3 linked regions of the Homo sapiens genome follow. Each later gene encodes a partner of the first gene's protein in a complex. Each region holds a gene or a part of one and is shown in the gene's direction. Other genes may lie near its edges. The genes, in order: CALM2, IQSEC1 and RYR2.

Region 1 (3,196 bases):
CCTGAACTCTGGATAAGTAATACAAAAAGCTTCTCAACCTTCCAAGCAAAATTGAGAGCTTTCAGGTTATGTGAGTAATTTGGTCTCTTGGGTGCTTAATTCATTCCTTGAAGCTCATTTTTGTGATCTCTTCCAAGATTGCATTTGCTTGGAGGTAGGGAGTTAGACAAGATGGTATGAGGTCCCTAAATTTTGACTTTCCAAGCAAAATTGGACAGTGGTTCCTAAATTGCTAACATCCTCGTTTCTTCCTAAGGCTTCTCATGTTTCATATATAGTAGCCTTCCCAAAGTCCCATTTCCCACCCCCCCCCCCCCCCCAACCCATGTAGAGAGAACGAACCTGTCTCCCTTCCTGTACAGAGTACGGGATCCTTCAACTTTCACACAGGCTGCAGTGTCTGCCACACATTTAGCTCAACTTTTTTTTAGCCTTAAAGTGATGTCCGCTGCATCTGTCGCTGGGTTGCACCTTGTGGATTTAGTTTGCATAAATTTTCTCAGCTTAAACAAAGTTAACATTGAATAGAGTAAGCTTACCATAAAGGGCTTAATAAATGCCATGCATGTCTACATTCGGTGTGGAAATTGAGCTAGTCAGGTTGATATTTAACATTGTAGGTTCTTTGTTAATTTATATGAAATAATGGTTATCATTTAACTCTTTAGGTTAGCTTTGTACATAGCATCTCACTTTGCACAACAACCCTGCAAGGTAAGTATTGTTATTCTTGTGCTACAAATGAAGTTGACTGAGAGGAGGAGTACCACGTCCAAGGTCACACAGCTATTAAATGGCAGGGCTGGGATACTGGCCTGTGACTCAGAACTTGATGCTTTCCCCCCACGCCACGCATGCCAGGTTGCCCTTCCTTTCAGAAATGGTGGAAGTCCTGCAAAATGCAATAAACTGAAGTAATGTAGCTTCTATTAATACAAAGTAAATAACTCAGATTTACTGGATTTTAAACCTTATTCCTTGGGTAAACAATCTGTGACTGACTTCACACCAAATATTTGTTGGCGGAGGATTTGGACTTTAGGGATAAAAGTGGATACATTTTTTATTTTACAAACTCTGTATTTGAACTTAATTATTGGCTCTTCAATTTTACGTTACCAGCTTTTTTTTTTTTTTTTTTTTTTAATGAATTTGATTTACATCATGGTCAAACAAAAATTGTTGAGCAGGGAAAATAAACTGCTTTCTGGATTCCTTCTTGAATTTTCTCATGTGCCCTAGAGAAAATGTGTTCCACATTAAGGTGTTACTTTTTCCAGGGGTGTGTTCATTTAAAAAGAATGAAGCCAGGCAATGTTTATTTTTCTTTTACCTATAAATAAATGAATGGATTAATCATTGTATACTTGACTCCCATGTTGGTAGGGATTTTAGATAGGAGGCTATTTCTTGTCTGTGCTTCTCAATACCCCATAAGCAGTTGCTTCATGGATGTATATACTAATAAGCAGTGAAAGAAAGTGCATGTTCAAAGAATACAACAAGGAGTCTGGATATTTTGCAATCATCTTTATATATTACGGTGCTCTGAATTAAAAGCTAAAAGTTACTGGGTATGTCTGACACCTTAGTGCTTTATCTTTGTTCTACTAATTTTCTGTGCCCCAATCCCACTTAACCCTAGCCTCATTCCTTATCTGTAAGATAGGGGATAATACCACTGTAAGGTTATTATTAAGATTGAATAAGGATAAAATTTATAATGGGTTTTAGCAAATGGCAGAAAATATTTTCTGAAGAAAACCAAGTGCTATTAAAAAAACATCACAAGCCTTGGGCTTACTTTGGGATTTTAAAAACCAAGAGAAAATGGATGGCTGAACTTTCAAACATTTGGTAAATATTATAGTACTGTAGTTCAGAGCTCTGGATTCTTTGCATTTTGCCTGCTGGGTGAGAAGGAATAAAAGTTTGTGCCTTTTTTTTTTTTTAATCACTTTAATTTCAAAACAATGTGTTTAACCATTTGTGGGAGTAATTTTCATTTTGTGAGCCTGAAGCATTTTGATTCAGTGGGAATTTCTGGTGATTTATATCTGGAATAGAAGTGAGCTTAAGTTTAGCTATTCTAACGTTGAAAAAGGAAGCAATGTTTCTATTGGATTCTAAAGTATATTTTCAAAAATATTCTGAAGTATTTGTATATCTTAAACTTGGAGTTAAGACAGCTTAGCTTTGAAGATAAGAGAAACTAGATGTGTGCATTTTCTATCCAGATGTGTTTGTTGCTGGAACTAAATGAAACAGTACATGGTAACCCTTGAAAGGTTTTAAACTTGTTTCTGTAACTGCTAATCTACATACTCTCAAGTCACTAACCTTCCTCTTTGATCTCTTTGTAGGCTGACCAACTGACTGAAGAGCAGATTGCAGGTGAGAAATACTCAGCTAGATTGTACCCATTAGATTCTTATTATAAATTGAATAGCCAACGTCAGAATAAGAGACTTGTATGAAATAATTGACTTTGGTATATGTCATGGATACTAACATATGGGTATAATATAATACAGTAATTCAACCTGCTTTGGCAAGTGGGATTGTAAACTTGCCGATGGAAGATGTGCAGGGCTAATTGTAGTTAAAGACATGTATTTTAGTCTGCGTGGATATACTTTGGAGCCTTGTGGTGTAGTGGTGGTCTTTGTTTTGTTTTCTGAAGACTACCTTAGTATAAAACAGGAATTCTGGGCTAGCTAACACGCTAGAAAAGGAGGCCAAGAAGTAACTAAGGCAACTTGAAATGGAGAATCAAAAAAGGAACAATTGAATTTACCCTAGTTAAAATTAGCTAACATTTTAACCTAAGAATTGCATATATAATCAGTCAGGGAATAACCATTTCTCAAGTGAAAAAATTTAAGAAGTTGGCATTCTATTCTATAAATGTCACTGTAGCAATGTGGATTTTTCTCTTAAAAAACAGTGACAGCTGTTGAAATGAAGCCGCTTAAATCTTGTCCCTTTTAGTTTGCTATGGAAGTATGCAAAATTATTACATAAAACCTGATGTCATGTTCTCTTTATGCCATGCCATAGAACATTAATACTTTTGATTTATCCTTGTACATTGAGATGGCTGGTTAATGTCAATGTTGGGGAAACTTTTTTTTCCCCCCTTGCCGGAGTTGTTTTTTTTTTTTATTGTAGTGTTGAAATGCTTTGCAAACTATTC
Region 2 (3,650 bases), on another chromosome or scaffold:
CTACCAAGGGGCATAGCCTGGATTAGAACTCAGGCACCTGGCCTCAAAGCCTGCTTCTCAGTGCAGCAAACCCCACAGGTCTCCCTGAAGCTCAGTGACCCATCTGGCCACAAGAGCTGCCTGGTTGATGCTGTGGAAAGGAAATGAGTCCAGAAGCCTGTGGGCCTTGCTGGGATCTTTAGCCTATCTCTTGAACTGTGCATACTTCTTCCAGGGTCTCCAAATGGGTTTCGTTAGATGGCATACCTCAAGATGCACCAGGGCCAGGGGCTTCTGTGACCCAAGACACTGGGGACACTCAACATAGTGTATCTCACTGCCTTTTAAAGTTTCTGAGGCCCTGCATGGTGGCTCACGCCTGTAATCCCAGCACTTTGGGAGGGCGAGGCGGGTGGATCACCTGAGGTCAGGAGTTCAAGACCAGCCTGGCCAACATGGTGAAACCCCATCTCTACTAAAAATACAAAAATTAGCTGGGCGTGGTGGTGGGTGTCTGTAATCCCAGCTACTCGGGAGGTTGAGGCAGGAGGATCGTCTGAACCCAGGAGGCGGAGGTTGCAGTGAACCGAGATTGTGCCATTGCACTCCAGCCTAGGTGACAGAGCGAGATTCTGTCTCAAAAAAAAAAAAAAGAGGTCTGAGAGAGGAAAAACATGGTTGCACTCATTTTAACTTGGTGCTTCTCTGTCCAGTTTGACCTTGGGACTCATATTTTGCATAAGCCCACCAGCATCCCTCAGCAGTTGCTTTGACCAACTTTGGGACCTTCCCAGGTCGCACAGCCACGTGGCTAGGAAGTGGGAAGGAGTTTGGTAAATGTCGCACTGTGCCTACATGCAGTGCTGTTCTCATTCTCCTCTCCCACCCGCAGGTGGAGATGCTAGAACGAAAGTATGGGGGGCGCCTGGTAACCCGCCATGCGGCCCGCACCATCCAGACGGCGTTTCGCCAGTACCAGATGAACAAGAACTTCGAGCGCTTGCGCAGCTCCATGTCAGAGAACCGCATGTCACGCCGGATTGTGCTGTCCAACATGAGGATGCAGTTCTCCTTTGAGGGGCCTGAGAAAGTGCACAGCTCCTACTTCGAGGGGAAGCAGGTCTCAGTGACTAACGACGGCTCCCAGCTGGGAGCCCTGGTGTCCCCTGAGTGTGGTGACCTCAGCGAGCCCACCACCCTCAAGTCTCCGGCCCCCTCCAGTGACTTTGCGGACGCCATCACCGAGCTGGAGGACGCCTTCTCTAGGCAAGTGAAATCACTGGCCGAGTCCATCGACGATGCCCTCAACTGCCGCAGCCTGCACACTGAGGAGGCACCGGCCCTGGATGCGGCGCGGGCCCGGGACACCGAACCCCAGACAGCCCTGCACGGCATGGACCACCGCAAACTGGACGAGATGACGGCCTCGTACAGTGATGTCACCCTGTACATCGATGAGGAGGAGCTGTCGCCCCCTCTGCCCCTCTCGCAGGCAGGGGACCGGCCGTCCAGCACCGAGTCGGACCTGCGGCTACGGGCTGGGGGCGCAGCCCCAGACTACTGGGCCCTGGCCCACAAAGAGGACAAGGCTGACACGGACACGAGCTGCCGGAGCACGCCGTCGCTGGAGCGGCAGGAGCAGCGGCTGCGGGTGGAGCATCTGCCGCTGCTCACCATCGAGCCACCCAGCGACAGCTCTGTGGACCTTAGTGACCGCTCGGAGCGGGGGTCACTCAAGAGGCAGAGTGCTTACGAGCGCAGCCTTGGCGGGCAGCAGGGCAGTCCCAAGCATGGTCCCCACAGCGGCGCCCCCAAGAGCCTCCCCCGGGAGGAGCCTGAGTTGCGGCCCCGGCCCCCCAGGCCCCTGGACAGCCACTTGGCCATCAATGGCTCAGCCAACCGGCAGAGCAAGTCTGAGTCGGACTACTCAGACGGTGACAATGACAGCATCAACAGCACGTCCAACTCCAACGATACCATCAACTGCAGCTCCGAGTCATCGTCCCGTGACAGCCTGCGGGAGCAGACGCTCAGCAAGCAGACCTACCACAAGGAGGCCCGCAACAGCTGGGACTCGCCTGCCTTTAGCAACGATGTCATCCGCAAGAGGCACTACCGCATCGGCCTGAACCTCTTCAACAAGTGAGTACCATGGGTGACCCCTCAGGGTGGGCAGCTGTGGCTTGCTGGGCCTTGGCGGGTGGGCGTGGCTGCATCCTTCCAAGCACGGAGCTTGAGGTCCACCGTGGCCTATGAGCATAGGAAGCTGCCACACAAGGTCGGTGGCTAGGACGGTGCCAGCCTGTGCGCTGAGGCCTAGCCCCTCCTGGGACTGCTGGTGGGGATGGCAACACACACAGGCTGAGCAGGGGCAGAATGGGAGCTTTCTGTGCCGAAGCAACTTGAGTCCCGGGCCCTTCCGTCCCATCCCCCCCAAGTCCGCCATAGCAAGTGGGGTATGTTGGGCCATGCCCTGCGCAACTTTGGATGTCAGGCCTAGGGGTGATGTGGGACACAAAGGCCTTTGAGCAGGGGTATGACCGGTTGTGTCAGTGGGGGGCAGGGGCAGACAGGCGAGACCCAGGGCTGTGTCTTGTGGGGGATGCAGGCCAGACCTGAGGCCATGTCTGGGGGTAGGAGTGCTCAGGGGCAGTTGCTGGCCAGACCCAGAACCGTGTCCTGGATGGAAGGAACTCAGACAGATGCAGGCCAGACCCAGGGCTGTGTCTGGGGGTCTTGGGGAGATGCATGAGTTGGGTTCATGGAGTAGCTGCTCCCCAAGGGGGTCCTGGAAAGGTGCCGTTGACCATCCTGAGAGCAGATCCAAGGAGCGATGGGTATTTAAAGCAGACTATTCTTAGCACAGCCAAAAATAGCAAGAGGAAGGGGAGGAGGGCTGAGCACTTGGCCTGGGGAACGTGCAGGCTCCTGTCCAACCTGAGATTTCTCGTTATTTCCACTCCCTGGGCTACTGGGATTTGGCCTCATCAGATGCTGGCCTGGCACCAACTCCCCTGGGCTGGTGGTTCCTGACACACATCCGGGGAGCCAGGGGCAGACGACAGTTTTCCCAGGAGGTCAAACTAGGGTGATGAATGGCGCAGTGGGACCTGGCCACCTCAAAGCCAGTGCCTGAGCTGGCTCCCTGCTCCGTCTGCCCCCTGTTCTCTCTTCTTCTAGACTGGGGGAGATGGTGCTTTTGAGCCATTCCTGGGACACATGGAAGCACTATCTTGGGATGTCAGAGAGGCCTGTCTCAGGAAGAGCCTCTGGGGAATGGTGCATTCACTTGGGGCCAGTAAGGGGCAATGGCTTACTGGTTTGCTCAGCTAAGAACAAAGAGTCTTGGACATCTCACATCTACCAGGATGCTCTCTCCTGAGCCTGTGATCTGCCTGTGGCTTGCTGCAGAGTACGGCTGCTCTCACTGCTGCACAGGCCACGGCCGGAGCAATGCGCTGGACAGGGGAGGGTTGCATCCTGCTGGCCCACCTGACACGGTCCCTGAAGTCTGTCCCCACTGCTCCTGGGCACAGCCGAGCTCCAGGATCATCTCTCGACCCAGGCCCATGTGCCCTAGAGGGGAGGCTGGGATAACCAGGGGTCCCTGCAGAGTGGACAGGTGGAGGCCAGCAGTGGGGAGACAGGAAACCAGGAAAAACCACCTCCCT
Region 3 (3,650 bases), on another chromosome or scaffold:
CCATTTATCACTAATAATTAATAAAATGTATGGAACTGATTGGGAAACTCAAGCAATGGTCAGAGAATGCTCTGACCCTGATGCTCTGTGGGTGAGTTGGGACCGTGTTGGGCATCGGTTTCCCATGATGCTTGGTGCACTGTTAACTACAAGGACAGACTTGAGAGAAATCTTGTGGCAAGGAGAAGATCGGGACAAGAGAAAGGATCCTCCTGCCCACAAGTTTAATGTGAACATCACTTGAATGCGTCCAAATGCAGAAAGAAGGAACCTGCTATGAAGGAAGTAGGCAAAGATAGTGGGGGTGGAAGAATAGAGGTAAGATCTCTTCTGGAAGCAGAAGAGTAGGAGTGTTGGTGGGTGAAATTCTGAGATGAGGACACCGGAGGTGTGTAGGGTGAGAGAGGCCAGGTGATGATTGCTGCTTTGGGAGGCCGCAGTGGCTCCCAGGTCCAGTGGGAGGGGACACCCGGAGAAGGCAATTAGAGAGAGGGAAGTTACAGTCACTAGAGCAAATGAACAAAGGAGAGTAAGAGAATAAATTAAGGATTAATTGAGTCTGAGTGATTAGGGCTGCCCAAAAGAAATACTGGTTTAGAGTCAGAAGCTGTATTTCAAATGAGCAGCTGTCAGGGGGTGAGGTGACTTCCAGGGGCACTGTTAGAGTGTCCAGTGGATCAGTTTCATCCCCTTACTTTCCTCTTTATTAATCACGGGAAGAACATTGGGATGAGGACCCTGCCAACAAATGGTTGTGTGACCTTGGGGCTGGTGGGGTCAGATAGAGATTTGTTTGAGAGAGGTAAAATGGGGAGGTTGTTTTCTCAGAGGGACTTGCGGTAATTTCCATTGTCATGTTCGTAGTCTTAGGGTCAACCAGACTCAAACCATTCTGCAGGATGAGCATAACAAAATCTCACCCTGGGACTGGAAAGAAAAGCTTTGAATGATCCTGGGGTCCCTGGAAATCCTCATCCTGGTGGATTACAGGCCCTGAAAGCTGACAACAAGCTTTGAGCCAGGATTCTTGATGATGGGTGGTTTTCTTTCAGGGAAGAGGAGATGTTAACAATAAGAGAAGCTTGCAGACAGGCATTTAGAAGGAGCTAGGAGAAGAATTCTCTCATGTCAGTAGCCCTCTTAGGGACTACTTAGGTTCGGATCCATTTAGTAACTGAACTCCTAGTGAGCTTGTTTGCAAATCCTCTCTATTGTCCCAGCCGTGAAGTACTTCTCTGGCTTCCATAGTTACCTTCTCCCTGGCTGGTGAAGAAGTGGCCCATGTTTCTGGGGTTTCCCAGAATGTTACAGTCAGCCTCAAAGCCCATGTGGAAGGTATATTTCCTGGTTTCTATTGCAAAAGTTCTGTAGTGGTGTTGCTGCAATGAAATGGAAGTCCAAGGCATTCCCTGTTAGTGACGGAGTGTTCAGAGGACCTACACGTAATTGCTTTCATGTTCGTTACCCAAGTAGGGGACAGAGAGAGAGGAGCCACTGACACGTGAACCCAGGGAGACCTCCCCTGGATGGCTGGGTGCAGGTACTTACCACCCACCAACCGATGATGAGTATCTGCCAATTTACTGGAAGAAAACCTGAAATCTAGCTGTGGAGCCAAGATAGATGCAGAAGAAAGCGAGTGGAACAGGAGAAAGTGTATAGGAACTCAGAGGCTGGCAGGGCCTTCCTGAGTCTGGGAAGGGCTGAGGCGGGAACGAGGACACATTTGCTCCCTGGGACACGTGGTTCTTAGTGTGCAGGGGAAACCCGCATGTGGTCACTGAGGGAGAGGCACAGGCCCACACATCTCATCACCATGAAGGAAGGAACAATTCAATGTGGCCAATTTGTTTTTCTACTATGGCAAGCACTTTTTTTCCTTTAACATTTTTGGTATTTTAAGAGTTTTTGCACATTTATTCTGCTTCTAATGAAGTTTTAATTGTTTCTCTTTCCTCCTGAGTTTAGAATCTGATTCATAATGTACATGGGAACCCATGAATTTCACTCATATTTAATGCATAACCAAAGATATAAACTGAAATGATACATTTTGAGAAGATCAAGAAAAGAAAAAGAAAGCTTACAGGAAAAATGATATCCTTAGTCTTGAGTCAATTGGGATATTGTTAAAATGAAGCCGAACAGCACACTGAGGTGATAGCCACTAGAAGTTGTATTCTCTTCTTTTCCACAGCAGGTTTCTGGTTTTCAAAATAAAAGCAATTATGATTTAAATTCTTCTAGCTTTTGCTAGAGTTTATATTTATTTCATAATCAAAGAAACTTTACATGAGGAAAGTTCGGTCTCACACACACGCACACATGTGTGCACAAATGAATGAAAGATATTCCACCATATTTTTTTTCACCAATTTTGACTGTGGTGTAGAATTCAGTTAAATTAGTTCATGTGTAGCAGTGAATTGTCTGTTGATCTCTGTTATTTCTTCCAGTGCTTTGGGGTTTTTATTTTTATGGTTCCTTTCCCTTTGTCTTTCCCTTTCCCTCCCCTCCCTTCCCCCTTCCCTCCTTTTCCCTTCCCTCCCTTTCCCTTTCTCTCCCCCCCCTTCCTCCCCTTTCCCTCCCCTTCCCCTCCCCTTCCCGTTCCCTACCCTCTCCTCCCCTTCTCTCTCTCTCTCTCTCTCTTTCTCTTTATCTCTCTCCCTCCCCTCCCCTCCCCTCCCCTCTCGTCTTCTCTCCTCTTCTCTCCTCGGGGCTCATGAGTGAGTTACTTTTGAGAGATGCTATTTTGATAGTGGCAGGACCAGCAACAAACCTGTACCATCTCAGCATTCAGGAACAATGGTGTCCACATGTCTTTTTGAGGTTGTACAGGGCATTCTTAAGGCACATTTGAATAGTCCCACAGGCTGAGAGGAGTTCCTCTGATCTTAAATACAGCATCAGCCTGAGGAGTAACCATTTCTAGTCAGGAGATCAGAGCTTTTTTACGCCGTGGCCTACCTACTGCTGTTGGCAACTTTATTTCTTGTAGGTGCATTGATATGTAATTGTCTGGCAGGTCTGTTCTAAGCATTGCATGTGTATTTTCTCATGAAATCCCTAGAAAATCCCTCAGAGGTAGCTACCTGCAAAGAAGTGAAGTGAGCCCAGTGTTTGCAGACACAGGCAGTGGAGCGACAGTTTCAGACCTGGGCAGGCTGGCTCTAGAACTCTCACTTAATCTTGCCATACAGGGGCCCTTTCTGCTGGAGATGGACATATTTTAAAATGAGAGGGAAACTTGGTGCCCTGCTTCTACCTGCAGGAAGTTACTTTATAATATCAAATGTGAATTTCTTACATTACCAGAGCCTTGCAGGCTGTGTGCCACATCATAGGTCCTGTGTTTAATGTTTGTGGAATTGCATCGAACTGATTCCATGAGATAGTATTTTACATAATAAATACAGAGTAGGGTAATTATATGCAGTTTACTAGGGTACCTTAATGCAGTGTGTGTGAACGGGATACCTCTTTTATCTGTAGCATTATACCAGGTACCTAAGAGATACCATGAAGGTGGAAGCCATAGTTCCCGTAGAGTTCAGATGCTCAAACAGTGAAACCTTATATGCATCAACCTGGGAACAGTAAGCTTATGGTTCTAGGGGGATTGTGTCCTGTGTAAAATTCAGAGGGTCCAA

The links.
Region 2: the proteins of CALM2 (region 1) and IQSEC1 are in contact, whole or in part, in a crystal structure (PDB 7VMB), measured with the Homo sapiens proteins. Residues at the interface, in NP_001734.1 of Homo sapiens: Glu85, Ile86, Ala89, Phe90, Val92, Phe93, Lys95, Glu105, His108, Val109, Met110, Asn112, Leu113, Gly114, Glu115, Lys116, Leu117, Thr118, Glu121, Glu124, Met125, Arg127, Glu128, Phe142, Met145, Met146; in NP_055684.3 of Homo sapiens: Val121, Leu124, Glu125, Lys127, Tyr128, Gly129, Val133, Thr134, Arg135, Ala137, Ala138, Arg139, Thr140, Ile141, Gln142, Ala144, Phe145, Arg146, Tyr148, Gln149, Lys152.
Region 3: the proteins of CALM2 (region 1) and RYR2 are in contact, whole or in part, in a crystal structure (PDB 7KL5), measured with the Homo sapiens proteins. Residues at the interface, in NP_001734.1 of Homo sapiens: Glu12, Phe13, Ala16, Phe20, Leu33, Met37, Leu40, Gln42, Glu48, Asp51, Met52, Glu55, Met72, Met73, Lys76, Met77, Asp79, Thr80, Ala89, Val92, Phe93, Leu106, Val109, Met110, Asn112, Leu113, Glu115, Leu117, Met125, Ala129; in NP_001026.2 of Homo sapiens: Phe4246, Ala4247, Leu4248, Arg4249, Tyr4250, Asn4251, Ile4252, Leu4253, Thr4254, Leu4255, Met4256, Arg4257, Leu4259, Ser4260, Lys4262, Ser4263, Lys4266, Gln4267.

What each region holds. Positions count from the first base shown.
Region 1 is NC_000002.12:47,169,932-47,173,127, reverse strand, and holds part of CALM2 (calmodulin-2), read left to right. Parts: exon of another isoform or gene 1-668; coding exon of another isoform or gene 669-714; exon of another isoform or gene 715-2,363; coding exon 2,364-2,394; intron 2,395-3,196. UniProt on the Homo sapiens protein: Calmodulin acts as part of a calcium signal transduction pathway by mediating the control of a large number of enzymes, ion channels, aquaporins and other proteins through calcium-binding. Calcium-binding is required for the activation of calmodulin.
Region 2 is NC_000003.12:12,933,919-12,937,568, reverse strand, and holds part of IQSEC1 (IQ motif and SEC7 domain-containing protein 1), read left to right. Parts: intron 1-871; coding exon 872-2,121; intron 2,122-3,650. UniProt on the Homo sapiens protein: Guanine nucleotide exchange factor for ARF1 and ARF6. Guanine nucleotide exchange factor activity is enhanced by lipid binding. Accelerates GTP binding by ARFs of all three classes.
Region 3 is NC_000001.11:237,048,655-237,052,304, forward strand, and holds part of RYR2 (ryanodine receptor 2), read left to right. Parts: intron 1-3,650. UniProt on the Homo sapiens protein: Cytosolic calcium-activated calcium channel that mediates the release of Ca(2+) from the sarcoplasmic reticulum into the cytosol and thereby plays a key role in triggering cardiac muscle contraction. Aberrant channel activation can lead to cardiac arrhythmia.